2 separate regions of the Homo sapiens genome follow, and region 2 is linked to region 1. The links come from fine-mapping of genetic effects on gene expression. A gene starts in region 1. The other region holds a variant in brackets. All regions are shown on one strand. Distances are between the middles of the regions.

Region 1 (5,237 bases):
CATTCCTCATACAACTCCCCTGAGTCCTTTTAGCTGTCCCCTTCTCTCTTCCAGCTTCAACTTTCCCCCTTCAGCATTCAAAATAAATCAAGTCACTCCCATTTTTGAGAACATTTTTTCAATCCACACATCTCTTCTTCTAGGCTTTCTAGTTCCGTTCATAAGGAAACATTATTGGGGTATTTACGCTTTTTTGTGTTATGAACCACTGTGGTAGCCCAGTGATGCCTATAGACCCCTTCACAGAGTGTTTTTAAATGCACAGAACCACAAAGAAATAACTGAAAAATGTGTATCAAATGTTCTAAAAAATGTGATATATACACTTCTTTACTAGTGTATTAAAAAAATATAATTAGGCCGCGCACAGTGGCTCACACCTGTAATCCCAACACTTTAGGAGGCTGAGACAGGCGGATCATATGAGGCCAGGAGTTCAAGACCAGCCTGGCCAACAAGGCAAAACCCGATCTCCATTGAAAATACAAAAAACCTAGCTGGGCATGGAAACATACACCTGTAATCCCAACTACTCGGGAGGCTGAGGCACAAGAATCCTTTGAACCTTGAAGGTGGAGGTTGCAGTGAGCCAAGATTGCACTACTGCACTCCAGCCTGGGTGACAGAATGAGACTCTATCTCAAAAAGCCAACAAACAAAAAAGCCCATAATCAAGCCAAAGACCCAATAATTAACAAAATTTTGAAGTAAGGATGAGCACGATGAAATCCTGAGATGCCTGTGATCACTGTATTGTGATAAGGAAATACCAATGATTTCCACAGATGACAAAGTCACAGGTATTGCTGATGCTACTAGTTGCTGCGTATGTTCATAATTGAAGAAATGCTAAATTTCAGTTGAAAGTTAGTGAAAATAAAGGTATAATATTTTTTCCATCCAGCTTCATGAAACCCCTGATTTCTATTAAAGGGTCCCTAGGTTAAGAGCCTCTACATTTTAGAGTTACCCCTACTCTCAATGCTGGGAAACCTTCCTTTCTCTCAGTATGTTCTCCCTGGTTCCTTGGCTTTAAATATGACCTATATGCTGATGACGAGCAAATGTATATATGCCTGCCCAGTCTTTCTTCTGAACACCAGGCTCACTTTTTTTTTTTTTTTTTTTGAGACAGAGTCTCGCTCTGTTGCCCAGGCTGGAGTGCAATGGCGAAATCTAGGCTCACTGCAACCTCTGCGTCCCGGGTTCAAGCGATTCTCCTGCCTCCTGACTAGCTGGGATTACAGGCACAAGCCACCACGCCCGGCTAATTTTTGTATTTTTAATAGAGACGGGGTTTCACCAAGTTGGTCAGGCTGGTCTCAAACTCCTGACCTCGTGATCCACCCGCCTTGGCCTCCCAAAGTGCTGGGATTACAGGCGTGAGCCGCCACGTCCGGCCCTGAACGCCAGACTCTTACAGCGAATTGCCTACTTTCTATCTCCACCTGCATGTCACTGCTAACAAAATATGTATAAAATGCAGCTCCTGGTGTAGGCCCTCTCCCTAGTACTCCTCCAAACCTGGTCCTGTCTGTCTTAATCTCAATAAAAGGTACCATCATCACCCAACTGCTCAAGCTAAAAGTACGAATCAGCCTTGATTCCTCCGTTCCATCACTCAATCCATCGGCAAATCCTGTCAGTCCCTTTCTAAATCACCCTCTTCTATTTCTAGTACCACCACACTAGTCTAAGCCACCTATCTTGCAGCCCTGCCTAACCGGCATCGAAAGAAAGATACCGGCCTTGGGTAAACCTCGACACTAGAGTCACACTACCATATCCAACAACAATGGCCAATCTAACCCCAGAATTCCACAGAGGTCATATTTCAACCCAGCAAAAGATGAAATATTCTAAAATAAAGGACTATAGGCTTTCACCAAATGGCTCTGTAGAACAGACAAGGAAACGTGGGTCAGAAAGCTGTGACTGTGCCTAATCCTAGAACAGTGAAGACGACCCAGACTGCATTCTCAACTGCACATGTGAGAAAACCCAGCACATGTCTCCAATGCCAGCTGAAGCCATTCCAACACAGACGACTTTCCAGGCAGTAATTCCTATTTCCAGCTGCCTGTTGGAGATTTCTACCTAAGAGTCCCACACACTTCAAATTCATATACCAGCCTGAACTCTCCATCCTTCCTCCCGTATTCCTTCTCCCAAAGCAATGAATCCACACCACCCACCATCAGCCAAGTAGGAAAGTCATCCTTCCCGCATCATAAATCCAATCAGCTACATTCTGTCTCCTAAACACCCTTGGACCGTGTCCTCTCCTCTTTACTGGCACTGCCTCTGACGTGAGCCAGCCCTGACCAACTGACAAATTATCTGTCCCCAGGTCCTCAGAAATGGCTCTTCCCCTGGCAGGCACCCCCACTGCCTGGGCTGAGAACCTTCGGGCTTCTCCCTCCTGGCTTGCACCTCGCAAATCGGCTAGAGAGGGCCTAGTCCTCGGGCTACCCGACCCATACCTTGGCTGGATTAGTCAACACCTCCTTCATGTACTCGGCCACAGTGATGGGACCAGTAGACTTTATTTTGTACATAAGATGCCGCAGCATCGGCGTCACCGGGTTTTCTGCAGGCTCATTCCCGGAGCTGAAGTATTTCCCTCTCCAAATAAAAGGAATGGCTGCGAAAAACACAAATTAAACAGACCCCATGATAAATCTGACCATTCACGAGCGCAAGCCGCCTGAGCGTTTTCAAAACAGCTTCGTGAACCCTTAACCTCGCCCCACCGCAGACCGCGGGCTACTGTGCTTAGCACGCCCACGGGGCGCAGAGACAGCACCCACTTGCCCACGACTACGCAGCCCTATTGCGTTTGTACCGGACCCGTTTCCAGCCCAGGGTACCTTCAAGGTGGAAGTGAGCCCCCGAGCCCTTGATCCCCCGGTACCCTCAACTGAAGAGCTGAGGAAGGCGCCCCACGCGGCTTCCACGGCAACCGGGCTTCGAGGGGACTGACGCTTACCTGCGCGCGCCACGGCACACAACGGCCCCAAACCTGACCTCAGCAGTACACTCATGCTGAAATTCGCAGGCTAGCTCGCTCCGCCAGGAGCTGGGGCTTAGACCATTTCCGGGAGAAGACACGCCCCGACAGGAATTACGCCACTGGCAGAGCGGAAATAGGCTGAGTTTCACGCGCGTATGCTTTGCCCGCCATGGCCGCAGTCAAGGAGCCTTTGGAGTTCCATGCCAAGCGGCCTTGGCGCCCCGAGGAGGCAGTAGAAGATCCGGACGAGGAGGATGAGGATAATACTAGTGAAGCCGAGAATGGGTTCTCCCTGGAGGAAGTGTTACGGCTCGGAGGCACCAAGGTAACGGCCGCGGGCTCCGGGGAACGGGATCAGGCGTGGAGAGTTCCGAAGGTGGCTAGGCTGACTGCCCCGCCGCTTCCGCGCTGCGTAGAGCGCGGGCGTCCAGGACCGAGATCCCAGCCTCTGAAGCATGTGTTCGGTGCGCTTCCCACGCCGGTTTCCACTGCTGTTTACAAAAGAAAAGTTTCGAATTGAACGTTGTATTCTCTGGCTATTCTTAGGATGTAGGCGATCTTCTGATTTTATTGACGTGGTATAACCATCACACCATCAGGTCGGAGAGTGGCTTTTCTTGGTCCTGACCTTGTGGTATGAGTGTTTTGAACACCAGTGGTATTGGAATTTTCATTTCTGTTCTCATAGAGTACATGCACGTGTCACTGTATGCCCCAGAAGCCCTCTTTTTTGGAGCATCCTAATTAAGGGAGAGAAACAGTAAACAAACTTTTAAACACATAGTACAGCAGACGCGGGGTAGTGCTATAAAAGAAAATAAAACAAGGAAGGACGATAAGGAGTGGGAGCGCGTTAGTATTAAATGAGATGATCGACAAACACATCACGGAAATGTTTGAGCAGAATCCTAAAGGACAGGAAGGAGTGAGCTGCCATTCCAGTCAGTTGGAACAGCAAATGCAAAGACAGGCAGAAGAGTGCCTAACCTATTCCATGAGCAGCCAAAATGCCAGTGTAGCAGAGGCAGAGTGAGTTAAGGGGAGAATAGTAAGAAAGGAGGGCCGAGGGGTCAGAGGGCAGGCTTTTGCTCTGAGTTTGATGCAAAACCACTGGAAGATTTTAAGCAGATAAGGAACAGAAATTAACTTTGTTTTTAATATTATTTTGTTTGGAGACTGGACTTTCAAGGTGGAGGAGTTAGTTAGAGATAGGCAGATTCACAGTTTGCTCTGTGCTTGTGTATATTTAAGTTTTGAATAGGTAATATATACACATGAAACACGTGGTGCAAACTTTAAAAGATACATAGTGAAGTCAAATTGTTTCCACTTTTATCTCAGCCATAACCATTGCCCTGATAGGAAGCAATTATTTTTACAACTGCATTTTATATCTTTCAGGGATACTATATACCTTTTCAAGCATATACATACTCATTTATGTGTATGAAATACGGGTGTATCTTTTTTACATAAATGGTACCATATATATACACCTATCTCTACATTTTGCTTTCTTTTCTGTCTTAGAAATCCTTCTATATCAGTGCATAACGTTCTGTGTCATTGCTATGGCTGCATAAATCATTTTGTCTGTCTTAATTTATCTAACCAGCCATTTATTGTGAATATTTAAATTATTGCCAGTCTTTCACTATTTTAAATAATACTACAGTTAATAACCTTAATCGTGTTTTTCCCCCACTTTTGTAAGTGTATATGTAGTATAAATTTGTAGAAATGAGCCAGGCACAGTGGCTCACACCCATAATCCCAGCACTTTGGGAGTCAGAGGTGGGAGGATACCTTGAGTCCAGGAGTTTGAGACCAGCCTGGGCAACATAAGGAGACCTCATCTCAAAAAAAAATTTTTTTTTTAAATAGCTGGGCGTGTAGTGCCAGCTACAGGCTGAGGTTGGAGGATCACTTCAGCCTGGGAGGTTGAGGCTGCAGTTCAGCCATGGTCATGCCACTGTACTCAAGCCTGGACAACAGAGCGAGACCATGTCTCAATCAGTTAGTTAATTTTTAGAAATGAAGCTGCTGGGCCAACAGATGTGTGCCTTGTATTAAATAGTTGTGATTGGAGTTGACAAATTGTCCTCCATGGAGGTTGTGTCAGTTTACACTCACATCAACCATGTATGAAAGTGCCGTTTCCGCCACCCCTTCCCCAGCATCACCTGTCATTGTATCTTGCTCATCTTGCAGTGTATCTTTGCTC
Region 2 (5,238 bases), 24 kb after region 1:
TTCTTAAGCCTTTGCATCCTCATTGCTTAGCTCCCATTTATAACTGAGAACATAGAATGTTTGGTTTTCCATTCCTGAATTACTTCGCTTAGAATAATGGTCTCCAGCTGTATTCAGGTTGCTGCGAATGCCATTATTTCTCTCCTTTTTATGGATGAGTAGCATTCCATGGTATATGTATACCACATTTTCTTTATCCACTCATTAGTTGATGGGCATTTAGGTTGGTTCCATATTTTTGCAATTGCAGATTGTGCTACTATAAATCTGTGTGTTTGTCTTTTTTATATAATGACTTATTTTCCTCTGGGTAGTACCCAGTGGTGGGATTGCTAGATCAAATGATAGTTCTACTTTCAGTTCTTTAAGGACTCTCCATACTGTTTACCATAGTGGTTGTACTAGTTTACATTCCCACCAGCAATGTAGAAGTGTTCCCTTATTACCACATCCATGCCAACATCTGAAATTTTTTTTATTTTTAAATTACGGCCATTCTTGCAGGAGTAAGGTGGTATTGCACTGTGGCTTTGATTTGCATTTCCCTGATAATCAGGGATGTTGAGCATTTCTTCATATGTTTCTTGACCATTTGTATATCTTTTGAGAATTGTCTGTTCATATCCTTAACACACTTTTTGATGGGATTGTTTTTTTCTTGCTGACTTTTTTGAGTTCCTTATAGATTCTGGACATTAGTCCTTTCTCAGATGCATAGTTTACGAAGATTTTCTCCCACTCTATGGGTTGTCTATTTACTCTGCTGATTATTTATTTTGCTATGCAGACGCTTTTTAGCTTAATTAAGTCCCATCTATTTGTTTTTGTTGCATTTGCATTTAGGTTCTTGGTCATGAACTCTACTTAAGCCAATGTCTAGAAGAGTTTTTCCAATGTTATATTCTAGAATTTTTACAGTTTCAGGTCTTATCTTTAAGTCTTCGATCCATCTTGAGTTTTCTGCATAAGGTGAGAAATGAGGATCCAGTTTAATTCTCCTACATGTGGCTTGCCAGTTATCCCAGCACCAATGGTTCAATAGGGTGTCCTTTCCCCACTTTGTTTTTGTTTACTTTGTCAAAGATCAGATGGTTGTAAGTATTTGGCTTTATTTCTGGGTTCTCTATTCTGTTCCATTGGTCTACGTGCCTGTTTTTGTACAAGTACCATGCTATTTTGGTAACAATAGCCTAGTAGTATAGTTTGAAGTCAGGTAATGAGATGCCTCTAGATTTGTTCTTTTTGTTTAGTCTTGCTTGGCTATGCAGGCTCTTATTTTGTTCCATATGAATTTCAGGATTTTTTTTCCTAGTTCTGTGAAGAATGATGATGGCATTTTGATGGGAATTACATTAAATTTATAGATTGCTTTTGGCAGTATGGTCATTTTCACAATATCGATTCTACCCATCCATGAACATGGGATGCGTTTCCATTTGTGTGTGTCTGTGGTTTCTTTCAGCAGTGTTTTGTAGTTTTCCTTTTAGAGATCTTTCACCTCCTTGATTAGGTGTATTCCTAAGTATTATTATTTTTTTTTTTTTTGGCAGGTGTTGTAAGGGGGGTAGAGTAATTGATTTGATTCTCAGCTTGGTTGCTGTTGGTGTATAGCAATGCTACTGGTTTGCGCACATTGATTTTGTATCCTGAAACTTTGCTGGATTTATTTATCAGATCTAGGATCTTTTTGGATGAGTCTTTAGGGTTTTCTAGGTATGCTATCATATCATCGGTGAATAGTGACAGTTTGACTTCCTCTTTACTGATTTGAATGCCCTTTCTTTCTCTTGTCCAGTTGCACTGGCTAGGATTTCCAGTACTATGTTGAATAGAAGTGGTGAAAGTGGGCATCCTTGTCTTGTTCCAGTTCTCAGGGGGAATGCTTTCAACTTTTCCCTGTTCAGTATAATGTTGGCTATGGGTTTATCATAGATGGCTTTCATTACTTTTAAGGTACGTCCCTTGTATGCCAGTTTTGCTGAGGGTTTAAATCATAAAGGATGCTTGATTTTGTCAAATGCTTTTTCTGCGTCTATTGAGATGATCATATGATTTTTGTTTTTAATTGTTTATGTGGTATATCATATTTATTGACTTGCGTATGTTAAACCAGCCCTATATCCCTGGCAAGAAACCCACTTGATCATGGTGTATTATCTTTTTGATATGCTGTTGGAGTTGGTTAGCTAGTATTTTGTTGAGGGTTTTTGCATCTGTGTGCATGAGGAATATTGGTCTCTAGTTTTCTTTTGTTATGTCATTTCCTGATTTTGGAATTAGGGCGATATTGGCTTCATTGAATGATTTAGGGAGGATTCCCTCTTTCCCTATCTTTTGGAATAGTTTCAGTAGGATTGGTACCAGTTCTTTGAATGTCTGATAGAATTCAGCTGTGAATCCATCTGGTCCTGGACTTTGTTTTGTTGGCAGTTTTTTTATTACTGTTTCAGTCGTGCTACTTGTTATTGGTCTGTTCAGAGTTTCCATTTCTTTCTGGTTTAATCTAGAAGGGTTGTATATTTCCAGGAATTTATCCATTTTTCTCTAGGTTTTCTAGTTTTTGTGCATAAAGGTGTTCATAGTAGCCTTGAATGATCTTTTGTATTTCTGTGGTAT[C/T]GGTTGTAGTATCTCCCATTTCGTCTCTAATTGAGCTTATTCAGATCTTCTCTCTTCTTTTTTTGGTTAATCTTGCTAATGGTCTACCGATTTTCTTTATTTTTCCACAGAACCAGCTTTTTGTTTCATTTATCTTTTGTAGTGTTTGCTTCAGTTTTATTTAGTTCTGCTCTGATATTTGTTATTTCTTTTCTTCTGCTGGGTTTGAGTTTGATTTGTTCTTGTTTCTCTAGTTCCTTGAGGTGTGAGCTTAGATTGTCTGTTTATGCTCTTTCAGACTTTTTGATGTAGACATTTAATGCTGTGAACTTACTAAATGTAGTGCCGCTTTTGCTGTATCCCAGAGGTTTTGATGGGTTGTGTCACTATTGTTCAGTTCAAAAAATTTTAATTTCCATCTTGATTTCATTGTTGACACAAAGATCATTCAAGAGCAGATTATTAAATTTCCATGTATTTGTATATAGTTTTGAGGGTTCCTTTTGGAGTTAATTTCCAATTGTATTCCACTGTGGTGTGAGAGGGTACTTGATACAATTTCAGTTTTCTTAAGTTTATTGAGACTTGTTTTGTGGCCTACCATATGGTCTATCCTTGAGAATGCTCCGTGTGCTGGTGAAAATAATGTATATTCTGCAGTTTTTGGGTAGAATGTTCCGTAGGTATCTGTTAAGTCCATTTGTTCTAAGGTATAGTTTAAGTCCATTGTTTCTTTGTTGACTTTCTGTCTTGATGACCCGTCTAGGGCTGTCAGTGGAGTATTGAAGTCACCCACTATTATTGTGTTGCCATCTGTCTAATTTCTTAGGTCTAGTAGTAATGGTTTTATAAATTTGGAAGCTCTGGTGGTAGGTGCATATATATTTTGGATTATGACATTTCTTGTTGGACTAATCATTTTACTAGTATGTAATGTCCCTCTTTGTCTTTTTTAACTGTTGTTGCTTTAAAGTCTGTTTTGTCTGATATAAGAATAGCTAGTCCTGCTTGCTTTTGGTTTCCATTTGCATGGAATATCTTTTCCCACCCCTTTACCTTAAGTTTATGTGAGTCCTTATGTGTTACGTGAGTCTCCTGAACACAGCAGATTCTTGGTTGGTGGTCCAAATGTATCTTTTAAGAGGAGCATTTAGGCCATTTACATCCAACGTAGTATTTGAGATGTGAGGTACTATTCTATTCATCATGCTAGTTGTTGCTTGAATACTTTGATTTTGTTGTTTTTTCATTGTGTTATTGTATAGGCCCTGTAAGATTTAGGTTTTAAGAAGGCTCTATTTTGGTGTACTTCAAGGTTTTGTTTCAAGATTTAGAATTCCTAGGCTGAGTGTAGTGGCTCACACCTGTAATCCCAGCACTTCGGGAGGCCCAGGCGGGCATCACCTGAAGTCAGGAGTTCAAGACCAGCCTGGCCAACATGGCAAAACCCTATCTCTACAAAAAATACAAAAATTAGCTGGGCATGTTGGTAAGCCCCTATAATCCCAGCTACTGAGGAGGCTGAGGTACAAAAATCACTTGAACCCATTAGGCAGAGGTCGCAGTGAGCCAAGATCACACCACTGCCTTCCCGCCTGGGCGACAGAGCAAGATTCCATCTCAAAAAAAGAAACAAAAAACAAAGATTTAGAACTCCTTTCAGCATTTCTTATAGTGCTGGCTTGGTAGTGGTGAATTCTCAGCATAGATATCTCTCCTTCATTTAGGAAGCTTAGTTTTGTTGGATACCTTTTAAGGAGACTAAACACGTTGCCACACGCTGTTCTGTCCATCCATGTGGGAGCTGCACGTTAGTCCTGTCCCCTTATCCGCCATTTTCCTCCTCAGCACAGCAGATCAACATGTTTGCCTCTTTGTTTTGTTCTCTCCAGGGCCCCAGCAGATTGGATGGTGCCCACTCACATTTGAATGCAGATCTTCCTTACCTAGTCCAGAGATTCACATGCTAATCTCTGCTCATTCATTTTTAAACCATTCAATTATAAAAGCCTTGCATTTTTCAGACACCTGTTATCTTTTTCTTTTCTCAACCATTATTTGCCATTTGACCCTTGCAATAATCCATGCTCCTTTATTATGATACGAACTCTTCTTTCTGCTAATTGTTTTTTAACATTTTTAAAAGTATTATCTTACAAGATTCTGCTTCACAGTGTAACACAAGGTGCTAATAAAAGAAAAAAGTGCTGTATCAGGTGACAGTCTTAAGATTTTTGATAAAAATGTAGAAAGCACTGTACATACTTTGCCTCCAGTGCCTCTCTGGCTTCTGCTTACTGCTAAATACTGATGACTAAAAATAGATCTGCAAAGTTAAATAATAATAATGTTTTAAAAAGTTTCATGCGCGTCTGTATGAAGAGACCACCAAACAGGCTTTGCATGAGCAACAAGGCTGCTTATTTCACCTGGGTGCAGGCGGGCTGAGTCCGAAAAGAGAGTCAGTGAAGGGAGATAGGGGTGGGGCCATTTTATAGGATTTGGGTAGAAAAAAGGAAAATTGCAGTCAAAGGGGGTTGTTCTCTGCCTGGCAGGAGTGGGGGTCACAAGGTGCTCAGTAGGGGAGCTTTTGAGCCAGGATGAGCCAGGAGAAGGAATTTCACAAGATAATGTCATCAGTTA

Alleles and levels. Positions count from the first base shown, and alleles are read on the strand shown. Sizes are in standard deviations (SD) of each study's normalised expression.
For the expression in skeletal muscle of the gene that starts at base 3,092 in region 1, C is the high allele of the variant in region 2 and T is the other (small effect, 0.35 SD a copy in FUSION).

The links. PIP is the estimated chance that this variant, and not a neighbour inherited with it, causes the effect.
Region 2: its variant is the best candidate, but not a certain one, in a credible set for the expression of NDUFAF7 in skeletal muscle (FUSION, PIP 0.53).

Annotation. Positions count from the first base shown.
Region 1 is chr2:37,229,513-37,234,749 of GRCh38, reverse strand. It overlaps NDUFAF7 (NADH:ubiquinone oxidoreductase complex assembly factor 7), which reads right to left and starts at 3,092. Exons shown (of 10, transcript NM_144736.5): 1 at 2,990-3,092; 2 at 2,484-2,644. The coding sequence starts at 3,044. CEBPZ (CCAAT enhancer binding protein zeta) reads left to right here and starts at 3,154. Exons shown (of 16, transcript NM_005760.3): 1 at 3,154-3,338. The coding sequence starts at 3,183. RefSeq lists enhancers at 3,203-3,652, 2,610-3,809.
Region 2 is chr2:37,205,355-37,210,592 of GRCh38, reverse strand. All of the region lies in intron 13 of CEBPZ (CCAAT enhancer binding protein zeta), which reads left to right. It also overlaps a transcript of CEBPZOS not described here. Among named protein-coding and RNA genes, the nearest start is that of CEBPZOS, 11 kb to the right of the region's middle. RefSeq lists enhancers at 4,383-5,187, 5,188-5,238. The variant C/T (reference allele first, on the strand shown) is at 2,617.